3 linked regions of the Homo sapiens genome follow. The protein of the gene in region 3 binds, or shares a complex with, the protein of the main gene of each other region. Each region holds a gene or a part of one and is shown on either strand. Other genes may lie near its edges. A codon is read from its position in the direction of its gene.

Evidence for each region. Proteins that work in one complex are often made in the same cells at the same time.
Region 1: the proteins of MED21 (region 3) and MED26 are in contact, whole or in part, in a cryo-EM structure (PDB 7EMF), measured with the Homo sapiens proteins. Residues at the interface, in NP_004255.2 of Homo sapiens: Ala2 (codon at 4,158), Asp3 (codon at 4,161), Arg4 (codon at 4,164), Leu5 (codon at 4,167), Gln7 (codon at 4,173), Asp10 (codon at 4,182), Ser14 (codon at 4,194), Gln18, Asn21, Gly24, Val25, Gln28, Cys29, Tyr54, Leu57, Phe58, Leu61, Arg64, Thr65, Lys67, Asp68, Val71, Leu72, Asp74, Ser75, Leu76, Pro77, Ser78, Glu79, Glu80; in NP_004822.2 of Homo sapiens: Ser481, Arg482, Asn483, Glu484, Ile485, Ser488, Tyr489, Ser491, Arg492, Ser495, Leu496, Ser498, Ser499, Ser500, Leu528, His529, Ser535, Pro537, Thr538, Asp539, Leu540, Pro541, Gln549, Asp551, Leu552, Ile555, Gln556, Trp560, Gly562, Val563.
Region 2: the proteins of MED21 (region 3) and MED7 are in contact, whole or in part, in a cryo-EM structure (PDB 7EMF), measured with the Homo sapiens proteins. Residues at the interface, in NP_004255.2 of Homo sapiens: Asp3 (codon at 4,161), Leu5 (codon at 4,167), Thr6 (codon at 4,170), Leu8 (codon at 4,176), Gln9 (codon at 4,179), Val12 (codon at 4,188), Asn13 (codon at 4,191), Leu15, Ala16, Phe19, Ile23, Ile62, Ala66, Ile69, Asp70, Ile73, Asp74, Leu76, Pro77, Ser78, Glu79, Ser81, Ala83, Gln86, Ser89, Leu90, Leu93, Glu96, Asn97, His98; in NP_001094286.1 of Homo sapiens: Phe72, Asp73, His74, Lys75, Leu78, Arg79, Asn82, Ile85, Leu86, Phe89, Leu92, Leu93, Leu96, Phe116, Val119, His120, Ile123, Asn124, Tyr126, Arg127, His129, Gln130, Arg132, Glu133, Leu135, Arg136, Met139, Glu140, Gln142, Lys143.

What each region holds. Positions count from the first base shown.
Region 1 is NC_000019.10:16,625,073-16,633,137, forward strand, and holds the start of MED26 (mediator of RNA polymerase II transcription subunit 26), read right to left. Parts: upstream 3,133-8,065; 5' UTR 2,872-3,132; coding exon 2,800-2,871; intron 1-2,799. UniProt on the Homo sapiens protein: Component of the Mediator complex, a coactivator involved in the regulated transcription of nearly all RNA polymerase II-dependent genes.
Region 2 is NC_000005.10:157,139,734-157,147,126, forward strand, and holds the start of MED7 (mediator of RNA polymerase II transcription subunit 7), read right to left. Parts: upstream 3,133-7,393; 5' UTR 3,087-3,132; intron 3,043-3,086; exon of another isoform or gene 2,668-3,042; intron 1-2,667. UniProt on the Homo sapiens protein: Component of the Mediator complex, a coactivator involved in the regulated transcription of nearly all RNA polymerase II-dependent genes.
Region 3 is NC_000012.12:27,018,426-27,025,688, forward strand, and holds the start of MED21 (mediator of RNA polymerase II transcription subunit 21), read left to right. Parts: upstream 1-4,132; 5' UTR 4,133-4,154; coding exon 4,155-4,196; exon of another isoform or gene 4,197-4,446; intron 4,447-7,263. UniProt on the Homo sapiens protein: Component of the Mediator complex, a coactivator involved in the regulated transcription of nearly all RNA polymerase II-dependent genes.

The DNA.
Region 1 (8,065 bases), on a different chromosome or scaffold from region 3:
ACAATCATGCACACACTGCGCTTCGGAGAGATTTTCAACACCCTGGGCTGAAAGGGTGCACGACGAAAAGAAAAGCTCCAACTGCTCTGAAAAACTGTTAGTAGCCTTTTCAAAAGGAGAGTAGAGGATTTACTTTATTACTGAATTGGCAGAAATTATTAACTCTGAGCCTGCTGCTATAGGAATTCAAATGCATACTCCAGGGGCTAAAAGTGAGAGCACAGAAACTACTTTCCTCCTAAGAATTCCTTTGTCAAGGAGATGGTTGGTAAACACGACTTCGTCACTTCCCTAACTTTCCAGATACTTGTGGATATTAGGTCAGTTCCTGACACCGATTTTGCAAGCAATAGCTAAGTTTGTTAACCATAATTGCATGCCCATAAAGGTAAGCATTACATGACACAATTCTCTGCCGCTTCTCTCAGAAGAGGTTTAATTTTAGTGTTGGCTCTTCAACACTGTCCCCGTTTTTTTTTTTTTCATGAGCATCTTAAATATGTGTCAACTAAATATCCAGTAGTGGAGTTCATCATTGGGCAGGGCAGAGAGGAGAGAGCGGCACGCCGGCAGCACCTGTGCTGGAGCCACCTGCTCTCACCTGAGCCCACATTGATCCAAGAGAAACTGCAGACGCACTGACATGCCCGGCTCTCACCATCACCTCCGCCAGCAATCCTGTCCACCGCGGCTCTGTGTTTCTGCATGGTGTTTGCTCAAAGCAAACGGTCCTGTCAAATGGCCCATAACAGCGCTCAGAGGGTCAATCACAAAGGAGGCACTTTCCTCATTGTTCATAGTCAAGAAGATAACTTCCCAAATCCATCCACCCCATGTTAGTAGGACTCTGCCCAAGATCATCACTAAAGTCCCTGAAAATAAGCGGTATGAAATGCAAATTCCATGCCAGCTAACATAACCAGGGACCTATATAGCATTTCTGCATGTGCTAAGACACACAAAACTAAGATTTGTTCCATCCTCCTTTCTTCTGCCTCAAGGAACCCTTTAGATTAGAACCCTATACAATACTGGAAACTGTGAGGTCACTGGAGTGACCTAATCTACAACACTGTGATCGCCTGTCAAAGTGCCGCCTGATCCCAAAGCTCTCTGAGGTGGCATTAAGGATCAGTGCTAATATCTCAGCAACCTCTCAGACTCTCCAGAAGGAAAGCGAGTGCGTGAAATTAAAAAAATTACCTTCCGGCTCCACAAAAGATGCACAAGTCACCAAGGCTATTTTTTTCATGTCACTAGTTTTATCCTCTAATATTTCAGTCTTAAAATTGCAGTGACACCAGTTACTGCAAAAAGGACATTCTAGAAGGTTTTATATAGCTTGTGCCCACTCCACCCCCAAAGTCATAACAAAAATGTACAATATAACATTTGTTAAAGACAATTACCATCAAGTCAATGTTAATGGGACCTGAATACCAGGGATAAGAGAAGTACTTATATCACAGCAACCAGAGCCTTCGAAAAAACTCATAACCCTTCAGTCTTAACCAAAAATTGTATAAGCCAATGTGAATTATTCCCAAAACATCATCAGAGTGAAGCATATTGCTAAGAGTAATCAGCCAAGCTCATGTAAAAATGAAAGCAAAAACCCCTACGGTGAGAGAAACCTGAGTTACCTGGCCAAGCCAAAGATGATATTTTTCTTCCATTCACAGCACATTAAAAAGTGATCTCAATGGCCACTTCCTGGGAAGCAGGGCCTCCCCTCATACCTGGATGCTACTGCATCTTCCTACCGCCCTGCTCCTGCCGCGGGAAGAATGACCCCTACTGCCAAGAAACTCTTGGAGAAAATATGAGAATAGATCAGTCTTCCCCCCCACCCCCCCACCCCCGCAACAACACACACACACACACGGAAGGGGAGGGGGCGGTCCCTCCGCAAACAGTAGCCTCAGCAAAGGGGCACCCGAGGAAGCGACACTCTGGAGTTAACCCCGACAGTCTGGGTCAAAAACCACCAGGCTGAGACCCCCAGGTGAGGGAAAGAGCCTACTGAAACAGAGCTCTTGGGTAAACGGGAGAGAAAAGTCCTCTTTAATTCACTACCTAAAAAATGGAGCTCTGGCTTGGTCAGAGACGCAATGGGTACTGAGGCCCAGAAAGGCAACAGGAAGGATCCCACCCTCCCCGAGATCATCTATCGTCGGCAGCGACCCCAAGAGGGTTTTGGCAAAGGCGTGTCTAGTCACAGAAGGGAGACAGACTCTCCACGTACCCTAGGTACCCGGCCAGGGGCAAAACAGACTGGGGGTTCTCTCCGAAGCCAGGAAGGTGCTGCCAGCCGAGAGGAGGGGGAAGAAGGACTTCCCTGATCACCCAGGAGGCCAAGACATGGGAGACATAGGTTCCCCGAGTCATACCCCGGACACCAGTTGCTTCACAGCCCTTCTCCCTCCCCTTCCCGCTCCGGGAGGGCTTCCCGGGGGTCTCGGGTCCCGGAGGGAGGGCGAGGCAGAGAAGCTTCGTCCAGAGCAGTGAGGGTCGTAGAGCTGGAGCAGAAAGGGAGGAAAAACTCTAGCCTCAGCTCCCCCGTCTGCTTCCTCCGCCCAGGCCGCACGGAAGCCTCGGCCTCACGTACCGAGCGCTGCCGGGCTGCCCGACCTGCCCCCGGCCCGGGCCCGAGAAGCGAGAGGCAGGGATGGCAGCGGCCCTCGAGGGGAGGTGGGCGCCAGACGGGTCCCCCGAAGCCCGGTGGGCGAGGGGTACAGGAGAGGGGGAGGGTCCCGGGCCCATGCGGCCTCCGTCCCAGCTCGCGCGGCGGGTACTTACGTTGCTCTGGGGGTCGATGGCCTGCAGCAGCCGGTCCCTGATCTGCTGCGGAGACGCCGGAGCCGCTGTCATTGCCTGGGCGAGGCGGGGGGTTGCGGCCGGGCCAGCGGGCGGGCGGGCTGAGGCGGGGGACGGGGGTCACTCACTCGCCGGCCTCCGGGAGCCGGAGCCGCATGTTCCCCGCGGCGCCGGGGGGTTGGGGGCGCGCGGGGTGGCGGAGAGGGGAGCCGGGGCCGGGTCTCGGTCCCGGGCCGCCGCCGCCACCAAAGGAGGAGGAGGAGCCGCCGGAGCCGCCGCCGCTCGCTGCCGCCGCCTCGAGAACCAAACTCCAGTGAGCTGCCCCCGCGCGGAGTACTCTGGGTAGTCCGCGCCGCACGCAGCGTCGGCGCCACGCTGAGGAGGTTGGGAGATGGGGCGGGCGGAGACGCCAGGCCTGGGCGGGGCTGCCCGTGTGCCACGCCCCGCGCCTCCGCGCAAGCGCGCGCAGGCGCACTCGTCCGCCCGTGACGCCCCGCCCAGCCGCCCGGCCTAGGCAGCCGTTGGGAGGAGGTTGGGCGGGGCAACGGCCCCCGTCCAGGTCACGGGGCGGGGCTTTCTGACGGAAGCGCGCGCGCAAAGAGTCCTTGAACCCGGACGCTCGCAGCGGCTACCTCGGGGCGGGGAGGGCGGCGGGAAAATCCTTCCTCTGGGAGAGCCTTCCCGGCGCGTGACTGGGGGACGGGAGTCGCAGGCTGAGCAGCTGCCGAGTTTTTTGTGAGGGCGAGGGAACCAGACGTCCACGTTGTGATTCTGCGCGCAGAAGGGTCATCGGAGTCCGGGGGTGTCGCCGCGGCCCCCCCGCCCCTCAGAGGGTGTGGGAATGGGTGTGGTGGCAGGGCGGGGGTCTGCACCGCCACGCGCGACCCCGATCGCGAAAACGTGAGGCGGCAAAGCGCCTCTGGCAGAAGCCGCCCGCCGTAGCTGGGAAAGCCGGAGGTTGCAAATCTGCGTCTACGCGGCGGCTTCTCCACCTCGGCACCACTGGCATTTGGGCGGGATCGCTCTGTCTTCGGGGCGGGTCCCCCGATCTGTCGGAAGTTGAGCGGCATCTCTGGCCTCCGAAGCGCCCCCTCCCCCAATCTGCAGTCATTGCCGCCGTCCCTTGTGGGGGCACAGTCCCCCCGCCCCCCCACCGGCAGAGAACCCCGTGATTGAAAGACCCTTCTACCCGCCTCTGCCTTGAGATTCTGTAAAACTGAGATGCTCATTCTCTTAACCAAACACGTCACAGAGGAGGAAACGGAGGCCCAAGGTCACCTAGACTTCGGGGTTAAGCCCAGAACCGCAGATGTCAAGTTTAAGGGCGCCCCTCCTCCCTCCACCCTGTTTATTGCCTTGGTAATTGCTCCCCTCTCTCTGGGAGCTCTGTTGGAAATGCTCTTGTGAGACGGGATGGAAAGGCAAGCTCGGCGGCCTCGGGAGAAATCTTTTTTTTCCCACTGTTACAGGAAGACCTAGATTTAAAACAGGAGGAAGACAGCTGATGAGAACCACATGTGTGCCTTGGAGCTGCCCGACACCTGTTAGTCTTGTATTTGTTGTGCTTCTGGGAAATATTTTCATTTGCAAAAACGGCTGCTTCTGCACGTGGCTATGGTTGCGTGCTTCTGCACATGTGAAAAGTTTTACATCACACTTGGAGGAGAAAAGAAACACGGGCAAAACACTTGTCATTTACTGCTCCCAACCTCGCCCCTCCCAGAATGCGGTGCATTGTGTACATGGTGTACATGGTCCAAGTTGGAAACTGGCCCATTCGGAGATAATTCTCTCATTTCTGATAAGCAAAATAAGCAAAGCCTTCCTCAGGCATATTCTGGTCTTGCCTCTCTCTTAATTTCTAACTCGGATGTACAGTATCTTTTTTTTTTTTTAATAAAGTATTACATAGGAGGCAATTTATTTTGCATGGGTCAGGTTATTTTAAGAAACATTTGGGCCGGACGTGGTGGCTCAAGCCTGTAATCCCAGCACTTCAGCAGGCGGAGGTGGGCGATCACTTGAGCTCAGGAGTTCGAGACTAGCCTGGCCAACATGGTGAAACCCCATCTCTACTAAAAATACAAAAATTAGCCGGGCATGCTGGCGCGCACTTGTAATCCTGGCTACTAGAGGGGGCTGAGGCAGAAGAATTGCTTGAACCCGGGAGGCGGAGGTTGCAGTGAGCCAAGATCACACCACTGCACTCCAGCCTGGGCAACAGACTCTGTCTCAAACAAAATGTGGGGCCAGCCACGGTGGCTCATGCCTGGTAGCTCATGCCTGTAATCCCAGCACTTTGGGAAGCCGAGGTGGGCAGATCACTTGCGGTCAGGAGTTCGAGACCTGCGTGGCCAAAATAGTGAAACCCCTTCTCTACTGAAAAAACAAAAATTAGCCGGGCATGGTGGCACACACCTGTAATCCCAGCTACTCAGAAGGCTGAGGCACGAGAATTGTTTGAACCCAGAAGGCAGAGGCTGCAGTGAGCTGAGATCACGCCACTGTACTCCAACCTGGGTGACAGAGCAAGACTGTCTTGAAAAATAAACAAACATCTGGAAAGTACTCAACTTACCCACTTTTTAAAAACTAAGAAGCACTGACATGACTTGGTTCCTCAAGGGCACTGGCTCTTTTTGGTATCCCCAGTAGATAGAAAAATAGTATCTGTGGAGTAAGTCAATGAAAAGTTTCATCAAATACACGGTAGCGTTACACACACCCCCAGACATATGAATGCATTTCAGTTTCTACAGATCTGGTACACCATGGGTCTGGAGAGCTATTTCTGGAATGAATGAAATACTTCATAAAATATAATACTATATACACCAGGATACACAACACACACACGGATATTTAGTTTTATTCCACATTTAATGTACGTAAAAGGGTGTTTTTGTAAATGCAAAGATTAAATCAGACAGCCTCTGAATTGTAGTCTTGAAAACATTAGCAAGTTCTTTTAGGTCCAGGGTAGATACTGCAGTTCACTTAGCCAACTTTCTGCATTGAGACATCCTTGCCAGGGATCCTGTCAGTTATGCGAAGATGCGGCACGAGATAATTCCTCTTGCTGTGATGGTTCGTCCTCAATGACAGGTCCCTTATAGTATTTAGGTACAACAAGGTCTTTTGTGCTTGGAATGCCCTTGAAAAAGCTGCCTCACCTGTTTGTGAAGGGAACCCCAAAGAGAAAGGGAGAGGAAGGGCTGGGTGCAGTGGCTCACATCTATAATCCCAGCACTTTGGGAGGCCGAGGTGGGTGGATCATTTGAGGTAAGGAGTTAAGAGACCAGCCTGGCCAACATGGTGAAACCCCACCTCTACTAAGAATACAAAAATTAGCCGGGCATGGTGGTGGGCACCTGTATTCCCAGCTACTTGGGAGGTAGAGGCAGGAGAATTGCATGAACCTGGGAGGCAGAGGTTGCAGTGAGCCAAGATCACACCACCACACTCCAGCCTGGGTGACAGAGCGAGACTCCATCACAAATATAAAATAAAATAAAATAAATAGAAAAAAGGGAGAGGAAGTAGTTCAGAGTCCATGACTTGCTCTTGCCATGGGAAAAGGCAAGGAAGTTAGTGTCAGGAGGTCAAGTGCAGAGCATCTTCAGCCAACCTGGACAGTGAGGGAGTAGAAGGATGCTTCTCCCTGGACTCACTGCTGTGGCCTAAGCAGGAACCGGGATATTCAAGAGCACTGCAGAGGAAGCCGTGACGAGGCAGGTTCACACAGCTGTACAGGAATAGTCTTCCACAGCGACACCTTGTAATAGCCAGGAGCAACAGCAGGAATGCGCTCATCAGACATGTCAGAAGCAAGCCCCTGAGAGACAGGCCATTTAAAGCACAGGGTTACTAAACTTACCCTAATAAGGGATGTGAGGGCTCCAGGGATTAACAGAAAAAGCCAGTGTGACAAAAACAACCACCCTCCTTTGACCCCTATGTTTGCTTTAACAGGCGGGTGGAATTTTTTTTTTTTTTTTTTCGAGAGAGTCTCACTCTGTTGCCAGTCTGGAGTGCAGTGGCGTGATCTTGGCTCACTGCAATCTCCGCCTTTCAGGTTCAAGCGATTCTCCTGCCTCAGCCTCCCGAGTAGCTGGGACTACAGGCGGGTGCCACCACACCCAGCTAATTTTTGTATTTTTAGTAGAGACAGGGTTTCACCATGTTGGCCAGGATGGTCTCAAACTCCTGACTTCATGATCCGCCTGCCTTGGCCTCCCAAAGTGCTGGGATTACAGGCATGAGCCACCACACCCGGCCGCTGGCAGAAATTTTTAAAACCCTTTCTCATATATGAACTCATTCAACCCTATCAGTTATCTCAGAAGTACCTAGAGATGAGTTTCATAGTTCTGCTTGGCTTTGCACTAAGTCTTGTTTACTCTAAAAGTGAAACCAATTTAAATTGGTTTTGACTAACCTTGACATGTCAAAGATAGGTAGAAGACCTCAATTTTTTAATCCCATCTTCAAGTAGGGATGGGGATACAGAAAGGTTCCAGTTCTGAACGCAAGCCCCGGAACCTGGTTGGGGGGTGGGAATTCATGAATACAATACTTTAATTGCACTGTACAAACACAACACGGCTGGGACACCAACGAATGAAAAAAGTCATTAACTGTGAACATTTTTTTTTTTTTTTTTTTTGAGGCAGAGTCTCGCTTTGTTGCCCAGGCTGGAGTGAAATGGTGCCATCTGGGCTCACCTCTACCTCTTGGGTTCAAGTGATTCTCGTGCCTCAGCCTCCTGAGTAGCTGGAATTACAGTTGCATGCCACCATGCCCAGCTAATTTTTGTATTTTTAGTAGAGATGCGGTTTCGTCATGTTGGTCAGGCTGCTCTGGAACTCCTGACTTCAGGTGATCCACCCGCCTCAGCCTCCCAAAGTGCTGGGATTACAGGCGTGAGCCACCATGCCCGGCCAACTGGGAGCATTTCAATAAGCTCATACCCTCTGACCCTGTGGATATGAGCGTACTGAAATTCACAACTTCTAAAAGTTTATCTGAAGGAGGCAATCAGATGTAGACAAATGTGTATGTACAAGGAAGTTCACTGAAGCACTATTTGTAAGAGTGAAAGATTGGAAGCAATGTAAGTGCCTAGCAATAGGGGAGTACGTAAATAAACTGTGATTAGTTCCCCACAATGGGAAGGTTATGAATTAGAAGGCGCCACAGGGAGCCTTGTGGGTGCTACAATAATCTAAGCCTCAATGTGAGCGGTGAC
Region 2 (7,393 bases), on a different chromosome or scaffold from region 3:
CTCCATGCCCCTCACCACTTATGCCCCATTTCTTTACTCTTCCATAACCAAACTACACAGGCTGTCTCCCAATCTCATATCACAATCACTTTTGTTTTATGTTATAGATTTATTTCCAATAGCAAACACTTACTTGTATCTCTCATAAACACTCTGACAAAATTAACATTGCTAAATCCTAAACACATTATTATCCAAAGTTCCTGAATGAAATGATGATTCAGTTCCATACCCTTTTTGTCACAGTATACTATGCAATTTTATATGGACACATTAACTTTTGTTTGTTTTTTGAGATGGAGTCTTGCTCTGATGTCCAGGCTAGAGTGCAGTGGTGCAATCTCAGATCTCAGCTCACTGCAACCTCCGCCTCCTGGGCTCAAGCAATTCTCCTGCCTCAGCCTCCTAAGTAGATGGGATTACAGGCGTGCACCATGTCTGGCTAATTTTTGTATTTTTAGTAGAGACGGGATTTTGCCATGTTGGCCAGGTTGGTCTCTTTACTCCCCATCTCAGGTGATCCGCCCACCTTGGCCTCCCAAAGTGCTGGGATTACAGGCGTGAGCCACCACGCCTGGCCTGTATGGACACATTAACTTCTCTACAACTATCACAGAAATGTCAAACCCCAGGTTCAAACCCAGTATCTATGGCCATAATAACCTCTACTTATTCTACCTTAAGCCTAGGTATACCATCCAATGAGAAGATCCTTAAGTGCTCCTTTAGATTGGTGTTATCAGAGTTTCAAGATATAACACACTCTAACATCGGGTGGGGCAAGTATCCTACTAGAAGCAATATTATACTTAGAATTCGTGAGGTACTGAGGGCAGCTGTGGCGCAGCCCTGAGTTTCCACTATGCCACAGTGGTGCATAGGATGATGCAGCCTCGCCCTCCTAGGCTCAAGCGATCCTCCCACCTCAACCTCCCAAGCAGCTGGGACTACAGGCATGTCACCAAGCCCGGCTAATTTTTGTATATTTTGTAGAGACAGAGTTTTGCCATGTTACTCAGGCTTGTTTCAAACTCCTGAGCTCAAGCAATCCTCCTGCCTTGGCCTCCCAAAGTGCTGGGATTACAGGCGTGAGCCACCACACCCAGACATTTTAAAACTTTTAACATAAATTCAGATTACAGAAAAAGTGCATGAATACACAAAAAACACTTCATATTCTTCACTCAGATTCTCCAAATGTTAACATTTTCCTTCATTTGCTTTATTGGTTTTTCATTCCTTTACCCCTGAATACTTCAGTGTGTTTTCTCGTGACAAGAATGTTTTCTTCTACCCAAAGCACAATTACCAAAATCAAAGAATTAACAGTGATCTGGTACTTCAAAATACATTTTTTTTTTCCCTGAGACAGTGTCTCGCTCTGTCACCCAGGTTGGAGTGCAGTGGCACGATCTCGGCTCACTGCAAGCTCGGACTCCCGGGTTCACGCCATTCTCCTGCCTCAGCCGCCTGAGTAGCTAGGACTACAGGCGCCCGCCACGACGCCCGGCTAATGTTTTCTATTTTCAGTAGAGACGAGATTTCATCGTGTTAGCCAGGATGGTCTCGATCTCCTGACCTCGTGTTCCACCTGCCTCGACCTCCCAAAGTTCTGGGATTACAGGCGTGAGCCACCGTGCCCGGCAGAAAATACAATTTTTGACAGCTCACGTTTCATCCCACTCAAACCTTTTTAGGTGAGGAGTGCTGCTCTGTACTTTCCTACACGATGTGCATTCCTGTATTGCGGCTGCCATTTTCCTAAGGCCAACTACATGACAGGTACCATTTTTTATGGCCTCTGTAACATAATCTTCATTAACAATTCTATGAATTAAGGTTTTTGGGGTTTTTGTTGTTAGTTTTGTTTTTTGAGACAAGGGCTCAATCTGTCTCCCAGGCTGGAGTGCAGTGGTACCATCAGGGCTCACTGCAACCTCTGCCTCCCGGGTTCAAGGGATTCTCCTGCCTGAGCCTCCTGAGTAGCTGGGGACTACAGGTGCGCACCACCACGCCCAGCTAATTTTTGTATTTCTCGGTAAAGACAGGTTTTCACCATGTTGGCCAGGCTGGTCTGGAACTCCTGACCTCAAGTGATCCGCCCACCTCGGCCTCCCAAAGTGCTGGGATTACAGGCGTGAGCCACCACACGGTCCCACGAATTAAGTTCTATTATCAATTTCATTTTAGAAGTGAGGATCCGAAGTCTCAATGAGGGGAAGTGTTGCCCCAGATCAAAAGGTTAATAAATGGCACAACAGGAATTCTTATCCCAGGTCCCTTTAGCTCCAAAGGGCAAGCTCTCTTATATCCCTAAGCCGAGAAGCATCTAACTGTACAATAAGGACTGGCATATCACAAAAATTATATTTCTTTCTCTACTGTCTCTCTAGATGGAACTTTTCAAAGGTGATGGAGGTCTTATTTTTAATAAAAGCAGAGCCAAGCATCAGAGCTGGTTCTTAACTCAAGATCCAACATCTAGTGTTTGTTCTACTGGGGGAGAAGGAGCTTCACCAGAAGACGACAGACATTCCAGGGTCCCAGCCCCAGAGATTTGATTCATTCTGTCTACTGTGAATGGGCCCTAGAATGTCGCTTTTAAAACCTCTCCAGATGGACCTGACGATTAGGCTTGGGATCTACCGCCCTCGCCTGCCCCCATACCTCAGCTGTTTCATAACTGCTCCCAGAAGAAGGAAGGGCAGGGAGGGCTACTCTCATGTTACAAAGAGCCGGAGAGGGCAAATGACTCGCCCAAGGCCACACAGCTTAGAAAAACAGCGGCGCGGGGACTAGACGCCAGGTCTCCCAACCTCCACTCCGGCTCGGCGTCCCAACACGGAGGAAGCCCCGAGACTGCCACGCTTAGAGCCCCCTCCTCCAGGCTGTCCACCCCGAGGCCTCCGCGCTCTCGGAGAGACCGCACTCTCGGAGAGACTCGGGAGAGAAAGACGAAAGACCGCCTTTGGAGGCCGAACTCAGCCATGCCTCCCCAGTTCCCAGCCCAGCACAGAGGAAGCTGCGGGGTCCGGAAGAAAAAAACGCACACAGGCGGCGGCCCCAAACCGTTGCCGCCCACTTACCTCAGCTCTGGCTTTACACTGGTAGCCGCCTTCCCCTCTGCAGCCGAAACCAACTTCCGGTCTCCTCCGGGAAGAAGCCACCGACTCTGTCCTTGATTGGCTGTAAGAGCTGTCCTTTAACGAAATTCTAGCTCCGCCTCAGACCGATCCCTCGCTGTTGCGCCTACGTATGTTTGACTCCTCCCATCCACCCGTTACTGACTTTTAAAAGTCGTAGCTGAGGGTTCCGTTTCTTCGTTTCTTTTTGAATTAAGGCATAAAATTGAACAAGACACCTTATTGCTTTATTTTTTATAGACCCCTTATTGACCAGAAACAATCTTATGTTTTAATGTTTAACATGCTCTTGTAAGACTTAACGTGAATTTAGAAATTTATGACACGAAAATAACCTCCAAAAGAAACGCTTGCTATTGCGCCTGCGTATATTCCACCCCCTTCCCCATTACCACTCTTTTACTGACTTAGTCGCTGCTGGTAGTTCCATTCCTTTTGTCCTTTTTTAATTTAACGCATACAATTAAGACGTCTTACATACAAATTCGAAAATATAGACATGCAGGGTTTTTTTGTTGTTTTTTTCTTTGAGACGGAGTCTTTCTCTTTCGCCCAGGCTGGACTGCAGTGGCGCGATTTCGGCTCGCTGCAACTTCAGTCTCCGGGATTCAAGCGATTCTCGTGCCTCAGCCTCCCGAATAGTTGGGGTTTCACCTATTTTTTTTTCTTTTTTTTGTATTTTTGGTAGAGACAGGGTTTCACCGTGTTGGCGAGGCTCATCTCGAGCTCTTGATATGAAGTGATCCGCCCGCCTCGGCCACCCAAAGTGCTGGGATTGTAGGCGTGAACCACCACTTCCGGACTCCCCCATTTTAAATCCCTCGCACGTATCAATTTATTTCCTGAAGAAATCCATCTACGTTGAGCATAACCCAATCCAGCTTTTCTCCTCACCGCTGACCCCAATGTATCCTGCACCAGTGACTTCCAATGGTCGTTCCCAGTCCTCATTTTACTCCATCTGTCAGCAGCATTTGGCACATTTGATTAATGGATTGCCCCAGGACTCAGTTCTCCAACCACTTCTCAGTCAGATATCAGCTGGATGATTACATGCAGGCCCTGGAACACCGTTTCCTCTGCACTTCAGACCCTCATATCCAGTGGTGACAGACATCTTTCCCCAGTTGCACTTTACTCAATTGCAAATGTTCAATCGAAGGAATCACCTTTTTCTCCTTTCTCACATACCCCACCGAAACTACCATACCAGCCTTTTGCATTAGATCTATTTAAAAATAAGTAAATAAAGTTCCAAATATGACTGACCACCGTTCCCACTGCTATGGTCCTATGCCATGCCACCATTATCTCTCACCTGGACTTCTTTGATTTTTTGTCCTCCCTTAGTCTATTTACCACACCTTCTTAAAATATAAGACCGGTCTTATCACTCCTCTATTCAAAATCCTCCAAGGCTTTCTATGACTTTTAGAATAAAATCTGACATCCTTCCCCTGGCCTATATCACAGGCCCTACAAAATTGCCAAGTACATCCCGGCCTTGGGGCCAATGCATTTGCCTGGAACTCTTTGCACAGATATTGACACGTCTCATTTCCTTCTTTCCTTTTTTTTTTTTTTTTTTTTTTTTTTTTTTTTGAGACGAAGTCTTGCTCTGTCACCCAGGCTGGAGTGCAGTGGCCCAATCTCGGCTCACTGCAAGCTCCACCTCCCAGGTTCACGCCATTCTCCTGCCTCAGCCTCCCCAGCAGCTGGGACTAGAGGCACACGCCATCACGCCCAGCTAATTTTTTTGTATTTTTAGTAGAGACGGGGTTTCACCGTGTTAGCCAGGATGGTCTGAATCTCCTGACCTCGTGATCCGCCCGCCTCGGCCTCCCAAAGTGCTGGGATTATAGGCGTGAGCCACCGCGCCCGGCTTCATTTCCTCAATTCATTCAGGTTTCTGGTCAAATGTGACTTCAAAGAGTTCTTCTGGGGTTACACTACTCTATGCAAAATAGCGCATCCCTAATCTTTCTCTTGGGAGATGCCCCTGAAACCCTTACTATGTATTATCTTTTTTTCATAGAACCTCTCATCATCTGAAATCATCTTACATAGTATATTTATGTATTTTATTGCCTTTCTTATCCATCAAAAATATCAGGTTTATGAGCATGGGACCTTTGTTTCATTTACTGCTGTTGTGTTTGAACCTACATACAACGGTGCCTGAAATTGGCAAATACTCAATAAGTGTTTATTGAATAAGAAACAAAATGAATACAATCATCACTTTCAAATAAATTCATAGCGTGGCTTTGGTGGTTATACCACAGTCTCTTTAGCCAGATCCTCATTGTGTTAAATTATTTTTCTCCAAATTTGATCCAGTGTAACTACACAGGATGATGAGATCCCAGTACATATATGTTTGTGCATGTGTCCAATTTTGTTCTTTGAAATAAATTTCTAGAAATAGAATTACTGGGCCCAAAGGGGCAGTGTCTTAACAGTTAGTAGCAGAATCAAGGCTAGAATCTTGGACTCTTGACTATCAATCTAGTGTTCTTTCCAATAAACTTCAAATGAATAATGGATATGAAGTCCATATCATGAGAAGGGCTAGTGACAATATGATGTGTGTTAAACATTTAATTATATGACTATATTGGCAAAATCTCAATGGAAAGCTTATTACTTAAAGATGCCTACTACAGCTTAACAAGGAATATGCTCGTTGAATAAATCTGTATATTGTGTGTCTGTTGTGCCGGCACTGGTCTAGAAGGCTAAAAAGACAGACAAAAGCCAGTGGGGCCTTTGAAAAAAGTGTTCTTTCTAGAAGGTGTTCTAGAGAGACACAGACAAGAAGTATACAAACAAGTAAAAACTTCGAATAGTGGTAAGGGCTATGGGGGAAAGTATAATACAGATTAATGTGATAGTGACGTGGGTTGGGGAATAGCTACTTTACACAGGGTGGTCAGGGTAGCCTCTCACAGAAGGTTAACTTTGGAAACAAAATATGAAGGAGTGAATTCTGCAGAGATCTGGGAGACAGCAAATGCAAAGAGCGTGGGGCTGCCATGATCTTTCTGAATTAGAGAGAGGAAGGCAGCCTGTGTGCTCCATAGCTAGTGAGCAAAGAAAGAAAGAGCAGGGGAGATGAAATGGGCAAAGACACACGGTAACCGACTTCTTGCCTCCCTTAGGATCTTGGCACATTATAAAAAACATCGCTGTCATTTGAACCTAAATTACAAGCAGAAATTTTTAGTTTCCACCCTATTGATTTTTTAAAATGTAGATTTATTGAGGGATACTTTACATAGAATAAAATTAACTCTAGGTGAATAGTTATAAGAGTTTTGATAAATACATACTGACATAAAACCACTACCACCCGGATTAAGATGTAGAATATTTCATCACCCCAAACAACTTTTTTTTATTTCAATTCCTTCCCTTTATCCCCATCCTCTAGTAACCACTGATCTGATCCCTGTTCATATAGTTTTACCTTTTGCAGAATGTCATATAAATGAAATTAGAAAGTATGTAGTTTTTGGTGTCTGGTTCCTTTCACTTAGCATAATACTTTTGAAGTCCATCAATGTTGTTCAATGTATAATACTTTGTTCCTTTTTACAGATAAGGAATATTCCATTGTATGAATATACTGTAATTCATGTATCCATTCACTGGTTAATAGACATTTGGGTTATTTCAGTTTGAGGTGATTCTTAACAAAGATACTATAAACATTCCCATGCAAGTCAATTGTATGGACATATGTTTTCATTTCTTTTGGATAACAACATAGTGACAAAATTGCTGGACATTATAATAATTATATGTTTAACTATATGAGAAACTACCAAGCAGTTTTCTAAAGAGGCTGCTTATTTTTCATTTCTCAGCAATCTATCGGAGGTATAGTTGCCCTCAATCTGCAAATTGGTGTTATCCTTTTAATTTTTACTTTTTGCTATTCTAATATCTGTATAATGATTTTAATTTGCATTTCCTTAGTATTGGGTATCTTTCATGTGTTTACTGGCCATGTATATCTTTTCTTTGGCGAACTGTCTGTTCAAAATTTTTGCCCATTTTTTAAATTGGCATGTTTTCTTACTATTGAATTGTAAGGGTGCACACACACAAATACACACAAGATATAAGTCCTTGATAAGATATGTCTTTTACAAATATTTTCTCCTAGTCTGTGGTTAATCATTTCATTTTTTAAGTGTCTTTCAGCAAGCAGAGTTTTTTTATTTTGATGATGACAAGTTTATCAA
Region 3 (7,263 bases):
GATTAGTTCATTTTTCCTATGTATTGAAAGGAAATGCAGAAACTGAAAGATTCCCAAATCCAAGATATGCATCATTAGAGGCTTAAAGTCTGTTTAGGCCAGGCGCAGTGGCTCATACCTGTAATCCCAGTACTTTAGCAGACCAAGGCAGGAGGATCTCTGGAGACCAGGAGTTCAAGATCAGCCCAGGCAACATAGTGAGATCCCCATTCTTACACACACACATACACACACACACACACACAACCAGAAAAAAAAATTAGCTGGGCATGGTGGGGCACATCTGTAGTCCTAGATACACAGGTGGCTGAGGCTGGAGAATTGTTCGAGCCTAGGAGTTTGAGTTTGCAGCGAGCCATGATTATGCCACTGTACTCCAGCCTGGGTGACAGAGCAAGACCCTGTATCTAATAAAACAAAAGTCTGTTAAAATTTAGAAGAGGAAGGAAGGGCAGGAGGGAGAGAAGGAGGAAGGGAAAAAACTTACCCTAGCTTTTTAAATAAAACCTAAAATACCTTAAATGGAGCTGGGAGTGGGGATCCAGGGAAAAGGCAGGATTGAACCTCTGTGAAATTTGCCCATTCATTCTTTCCCACTCTAATCTCACCTTCATCCTGTATTTTTTAATTCTTATGCTCTTTTGTGGGTAGTAATTTACATTCTTTGTTCATTAAGTTAAATTCAGTAAATGCTTGTTTAGTAGCTATTATATGGAAATTATTATGCTAGGAAACTCATTCATTTGGTTGATAAATATGTGCCAGGCTAAAAGTTAGGTGCTAGGTACTGGAAATATGGAAACAGAATATGTTTTCTGCCTGCAAGTAGCCCATGGACTGGTGGGTGAATTAGCGTGATGTACAAATAATTACAGCACAGTATGCTAAGTGCAATAACAGAAGTGTAAGGAACAATTGTGTTAAAGATTGGGAGCATTTAACTTTCAGAATTCAGGAAAGGCTTTTATAAAGAGATGTTTAAAATAAGATTTTGTTCACTAGTATAGTGGCAAGTAAAAAAAATAATAATAGGCCGGGCACAGTGGCTGACGCCTGTAATTCTAGCACTTTGGGAGGCCAAGGCGGGTGGATCACCTGAGGTCAGGAGTTCAAGACCAGCCTGGCCAACATAGCAAAACCCCGTCTCTACACAAATACAAAAAACTTACCCAGGTGTGGTGGCGGGCACCTGTAATCCCAGCTACTCTGGAGGCTGAGGTAGGAGAATCACTAGAACCCTGGGGGCAGAGGTTGCAGTGAGCTGAGATCGTGCCACTGCATTCCAGCCTGGGTAACAGAGTGAGATTCTGTCTCAAATAAATAAATAAATAATAAAATAAGGTTTGAGTACTGTGTGGACAATCACCAAGGGAGCAAAGTGGAGATGTGGATGGAAGTGTAGGCATTTCATACAAGGAAGAAATAATTATAGGTGTTTTTATATGGTGTGCATTTTTGTAAAACAGCAGAACATGTTTAGGGAATTTCAAAGAGTGTGGTATAGAAAAATGCTTATTTATAGTTATTCATCCCGGCACTAAGAACAGTTTAGATATTTAATAAATTGCAACTGTGAGTATTAAAGTTATTTAAAAATTGCTAAAGGTGTTTTTCTTAAAAAATAGTTGCTACAGTCATAAAAACCAAAGCATTTACAAGATTGACTGAGTGGCTCACTGCTGAAGCTGTAAAGGGTATGCGAGGGTTCACTATACTGTCTACTTTTCTATATCTTTGAAACTTTTAATAATATAAAGTTTCAAAGAAAGTACTCACCAAAATTGTGTGTTTAAAATATGAGATCTGTAATACTGGGTTCCTGCTCCTAAAACCATATAATCCAGTTGGCGATGCAACAGAAGCAAATGGAAAAGCATATGAGAAAGTGTCCAAATCATGAAAGGAAGAAAGGAGAGGTCCCTATGGACTCTAGCAATTCATAAAATTTATATGAGAAGTGTACAGCTTAAAAAGGTAGGGTAAGGATTAAATAGCAGGAAAGAAATTGCTTTGGGAAAGGTAAAGAATGAGGAAAGAGCTAGACCAGTGGTTCTCAATTGGGGGCAATTTTGCCCCCCAGCAACATTTGGGACTATCTGGAGATACTTTATGTTGGCATAAATGGATTGGGGGGATGCTACCGGCATCTCAGGGGTAAGGGACAGGGATGCTCTAAACATCCTACAGTGCACAGGTCAGCATCCCACAGCAAAGAATAATCTAGCCTGAAAAGTCAAGAGTGCAGCCATTGAGAAATCCTGAGCTAGATGCACAGACTATATTTGGCAGGTGGGTTATTCTTGAAGTCTACAGCTTCAAGAGCTTCCTAAACCCCTTTTCAAATGTAGGCTAAGTTGAGAGTCTGGTCTGGGGAAAGGGTCCACAGCTTTTATCTGATTCTTAAAAAGATCCGTGGCCGAAAGAGGCTGAAGAACCAGGAAAACCAAGGGGTCAGGGACCTTGGCTGAAACAGATTATTTCACTCAGAAAATTATCAGGAGGTGAGGCTGGGTCTGTTTGCTGGAGCCAGATTATAGTAAATCTTGAAAACCAGGCAGAGATAGTTGGACATCAACCTGAGGTCTCTGTGGAGGCACAGAAGACCTATTAGGAAGATAATGGCAGGACAAAAACTGTGTCACAATATGAATGTCTTGAAGTGGCTTCTCTACTTCAACTGCCCAAGTTCCCTTCAATCAGGCTGCAAAACTTAGTATTCTTATGGAGTGGACTAAACTATATCCAATCAGTCACCAATCCATATTAATTTTTTTTCTCAAAAATATATTTTAGTCTTTCTTTCCCCGCTTATCAGGGTCAACACCCTATTCTAGGCCCAGCTCATCTTAATCTTGGACAACTGCAAAACCTTCCTTAGTGAGTCCTTGGCTTATTCATCTTTGCAAATTGAGCACTGGATATACTTCCTGGCATGTGGCAGCCATTCCGTAAGGTACACTCTCAAGTGAGGGTGGGAGGAGAAGGTTGTAGAATCCCCCCAAGTTACAGTGAAAACAAATTACAGAGTGATTTCTCATTAGTCCCATTATGGGGAACATGCCTCATCCACGTTCTTAATGAGGCTCCAGTAAGTCTGTAGACTGTTTGGGGCTGAGGGTGGGGCATTGGTGTGAAGCAGAAGTGGTGCTTCACAGTAAGTGTTGGGATAAATCCAACAAGCTGAGTTCCCCAGGGACTGTGTCTTCCACCTTCCCCGCAGCCACAGGAAGGTAATCACGGATAATCAGCCTGAGAAAGAGGATATGAGAGTTTTTTGAAGTCTACAAACCTGTTATTTGCCGATTCCAAACTCATTTCTTACCAGACTATCCTCAGGCTAAATTTCCTTAAATACCAAGTTTCGATTATCACTTTTCACACTTAAACTCTCAATAAGTCCCAACTCTAAATCTAAATTGTGCAGCTAATTTTTCTTGGCCGAGCACGGTGGCTCACGCCTGTAATCCCAGCACTTTGAGAGGCCGAGGCGGGCGGAGCACGAGGTCGGGAGATCGAGACCATCCTGGCTAACATGGTGAAACCCCGTCTCTACTAAAAGTACAAAAAAAAAAAAAAAATGCCGGGCGTGGTGCGGACGCCTGTAGTCCCAGCTACTCCGGAGGCTGAGGCAGGAGAATGGCGTGAACCCGGGAGGCGGAGCTGGCAGTGAGCCGAGATCGCACCACTGCACTCCAGCCTGGGCGACAGAACGAGACTCCGTCTCAAATAAATAAATAAATAAATAAATAAATAAATAAAAATAAATATATTTACTCTTCAATTTGGTCAATAAATAAACACGAGAGGGTACGAGAAATTACTTAAAAAAAAAAAATCCCCGCAGAATCCAACAATCTCTGAAGCCTTTAACACCTAACAACCCCAAGGGGAGTATTTCGGCTCTTGGACTGTATTTCAAAGCGATTGGACCCCAGACCATTCCCCCAGTTACTCAAAAGATCCAGCCTCTCCTCAGGTGTAGCCCGCTCTAGAAAGGCCGCCTCGGGAGTACCACCCACTCCTGACGGGGCGGGGAGTTCTCTCCGACCCCACCCGTTCCAAGGACGCAGCCCTGTGATTGGCCATGACGCGTGCCAGAGCTGCCCAGTCGCGGAAGAGCAGCTGTTTTGGCGTCTGTTTGCTGCGGTAGGAACATGGCGGATCGGCTCACGCAGCTTCAGGACGCTGTGAATTCGGTGAGGAATTTCATTCGATTAGCCTCTGTCTTTCTCTTTCTTGAGGTAAAGCAAGGGAGGAAAGGGGCCCAAGAGGCAAAACTTGAAAGTGGGGAGCGGACTGAGAGACAGGGCTTCGGCATAAAGCGCTCTCTCGGGAGGCGCCACCGCGAACTCGGAGGTTTGAGGCCGGCTGCCGGGCGGTGCTTGAAGGTGCGGGAGGGAGCAGACTCTTTCGCTTGAGGAGACCGGGAAGATCGTTCTTGTCCGGGTGAGGCCGCCAGGACTTGTGGGCTGCGCGGTCCTGTCGTGTTCCCTGAGGACAGTTTTATTTTCTTGTCAGTGGTGCTTACGGGTTCTCTTTCTTTTGGGGGTTGGGAGGAGAAGCAGGAGCTTTTTTCTTTCCTCATCAATTTTAATCCACCAAGGGAGATCTCATGCTCTGGATGACTGGGTTTTTGTAATGAAATGTCAGCCGAGAGTATTCCTTCACCAGCGCTTTCAGGTTGGTGCGGGAGCGATGCTGAGGTGAGGTGAGAGATTTTCTTTCATCTTAGCTCGTTCCTTTGGGCCCAGAGTATCCTTCCATCTCTTGCCTCTTGGCCATCCCTCAGAATACATCAGTTTGGGGACATCTTTATGATAGGAAATCTTCTAATCCTCGTATGTCTTTCCGCTTATTTGAGTCTTTTTTCTTTTCTTTTTTTTTTTTTTTTTACTTTGGAGACAGTGCCTTTCGCCCAGGCTGGAGTGCAGTGGCGCGATCTCTGCTCACTGCATCCTCCGCCTCCCGGGTTCAAGCGATTCTCCTGTCTGAGCCAAAGTAGCTGGGATTACAGGCGCCCTCCACCACGCCCGGCTAATGTTTGTATTTTTAGTAGAGACGGGGTTTCACCATGTTGTCCAGGCTGGTCTCAAACTCCCGGCCTCAAGCGATCCTCCCGCCTCGGCCTCCCATAGTGCTGGGATTACAGGTGTGAGCCACCGTGCCCGGCCTACAAGTCCTTTTTAATGTCTCCCCCAAATTCTACTCTCTATTAAAGGCCAAGTCTAGTAAGTAGCTCCCCAGCTTTGTTCCTTCTGGTTATTTTTCCTCCACACTATGCCTGAGTGGAAAGTAGAAGCAAAGCCAGAGGATGCGCAGTCATGGGCCCCTAATGAAGGGGTCATGTTCTGAGAAATGCATGGTTTTGGCGATAACTTTTTTTTTTGTTTTAATAAGTAGAAGTACAATGTAAAATAACGATAAAACAGTAATACATAAACCAGTAACAAAGTCATTTAGTATCATTATCAAGTGTCATGGACTGCACATAATTGTATGTGCTATGCTTTCATACACTGGCAGTGTGGTAGGTTGATTTACAGCAGCATCACCACAAGCACTAAGGAACGCATTGCGCTACAGCGTTAGTACTGCTACGATGTCACTAGGCAATAAGAATTTTTCAGCTTTATTATAACCATAGGGGACTGACATAATATGTGCATCCCGTTGACCAAGACGTCAGTGGGTATTCCCATGCGGCAATGGGTGTACTTATTACCATTACGAGTTAGATTGTTTTCTGCTAAATAGTTTTCCATTGATAGTTATGTTTCTCATTGTCTGATTGTGATTTAATGTCCTAGATAAGGGGCTAGAGAGAAAACATGCTGATAGGAAAACCTAAGTACCTGGTTTCCTTGCCAGTTTTTTTTTTCCTCACTGTAAGCTAATAACTTGGCATTTTTCTTAATACATCAGAATTTGTACACTTGAAGAGTGTGAATCTACTTGTGATAAAACTGATCTACCCTGGGTGAATAACACTAGTTTTTAAGCTGAGAGGACCAGCCTCTAAGTGTTGAATTCACCAAGATAAATTCTACCCTGCAGGGACTTGCCTGGGCTGCCAGCCAGCCTTCCTCAGGGAACTACTCCTTTGAGGTTTTACGAAATCAAATTGTAATGATGCTGCTGGATAGAAATCTTATTTTAGGGAAAATTTTGCATATTCATACATGTCTTGTAACTAGAAGGATAATAAGGACAGAGTGAATATGGCCTTAACTCCAGGTTAGGCATAATGATAATTGGATTTTGGAGAAAAGCCTTTAGGATAACTAGTATGAGTGCCTACTGTGTGTAAGCACCATCATGTTTACAAAGAGATACTCCTAAAGGAGGTTAAAAAATGTCAAATACTCAGGAGACATTTAAGTGATGGAAAAACAGTATGTGGTTAGGGAGTTATAATGAATTGAGTATTTTCAGCTTCAGGTTCTGATGTAAATTGGAATATGGAGTGATGTGAACCAAAATAGGGGGAATCTTCTTAGCATTTATCCTAATCAGAATTATTTGTATAACTTTTAACATTTGTTCTACCCTCTGAAAACCGTGAGTGCAGAAGCTATGTCGCATTCACTATGTCTCTGTAGTGTTTATATGCAGTACTTTAGTTATTTTCCATAAATTTTTGTTGACTAAATGGATCTTAAAAGCTTTTGAAGGATGGAAAAGATAGACACTGTGTTGAATATTTTTTTGTGTGTGTTTCCTCTATTACAACAATGCTATAATAGGAGAATGTATCCAATTTAAAAATGAAAAATGCTGCTTGGATTAATAGAGCTAGGATCAGGATCTAGGTTTGTATAGCATCTGAGCACTTATTGCTCCATTACAATTAGCAAAACCTGGGCAAAGCCATTTAGTCATAAGTGACTTTATGACTAGTTAGATAAATATGAAGGAGTAGTGGAAAACGAGTCAGTAGAGTTGACTTAGATTATTGAAAGCTTCAAAACAGCCTGAGTTGGAGATTTATCTTGAAGACAGTGGTGGAGTAAGCTTAAATGTTTTGATCAGGTTAAAATAAATAACCTGGTGAACTGGAAAACAACAAGAAGACTATTGTAATAATTCTGGTGTGAGATAATTGGTTGAACTAAGCAACAGTGATAGAAGGAAAAGAGAAAGATTTGTAGTATTAGCAGAATATGAAGATCAAAGGAAAGTAAGAATCTGAAGTTAGATTGGTTGACTAGGAGACTTTCAATACAAATTAAATATTAAAAAGAGGAAACAGTTGCCTTTGAGTTC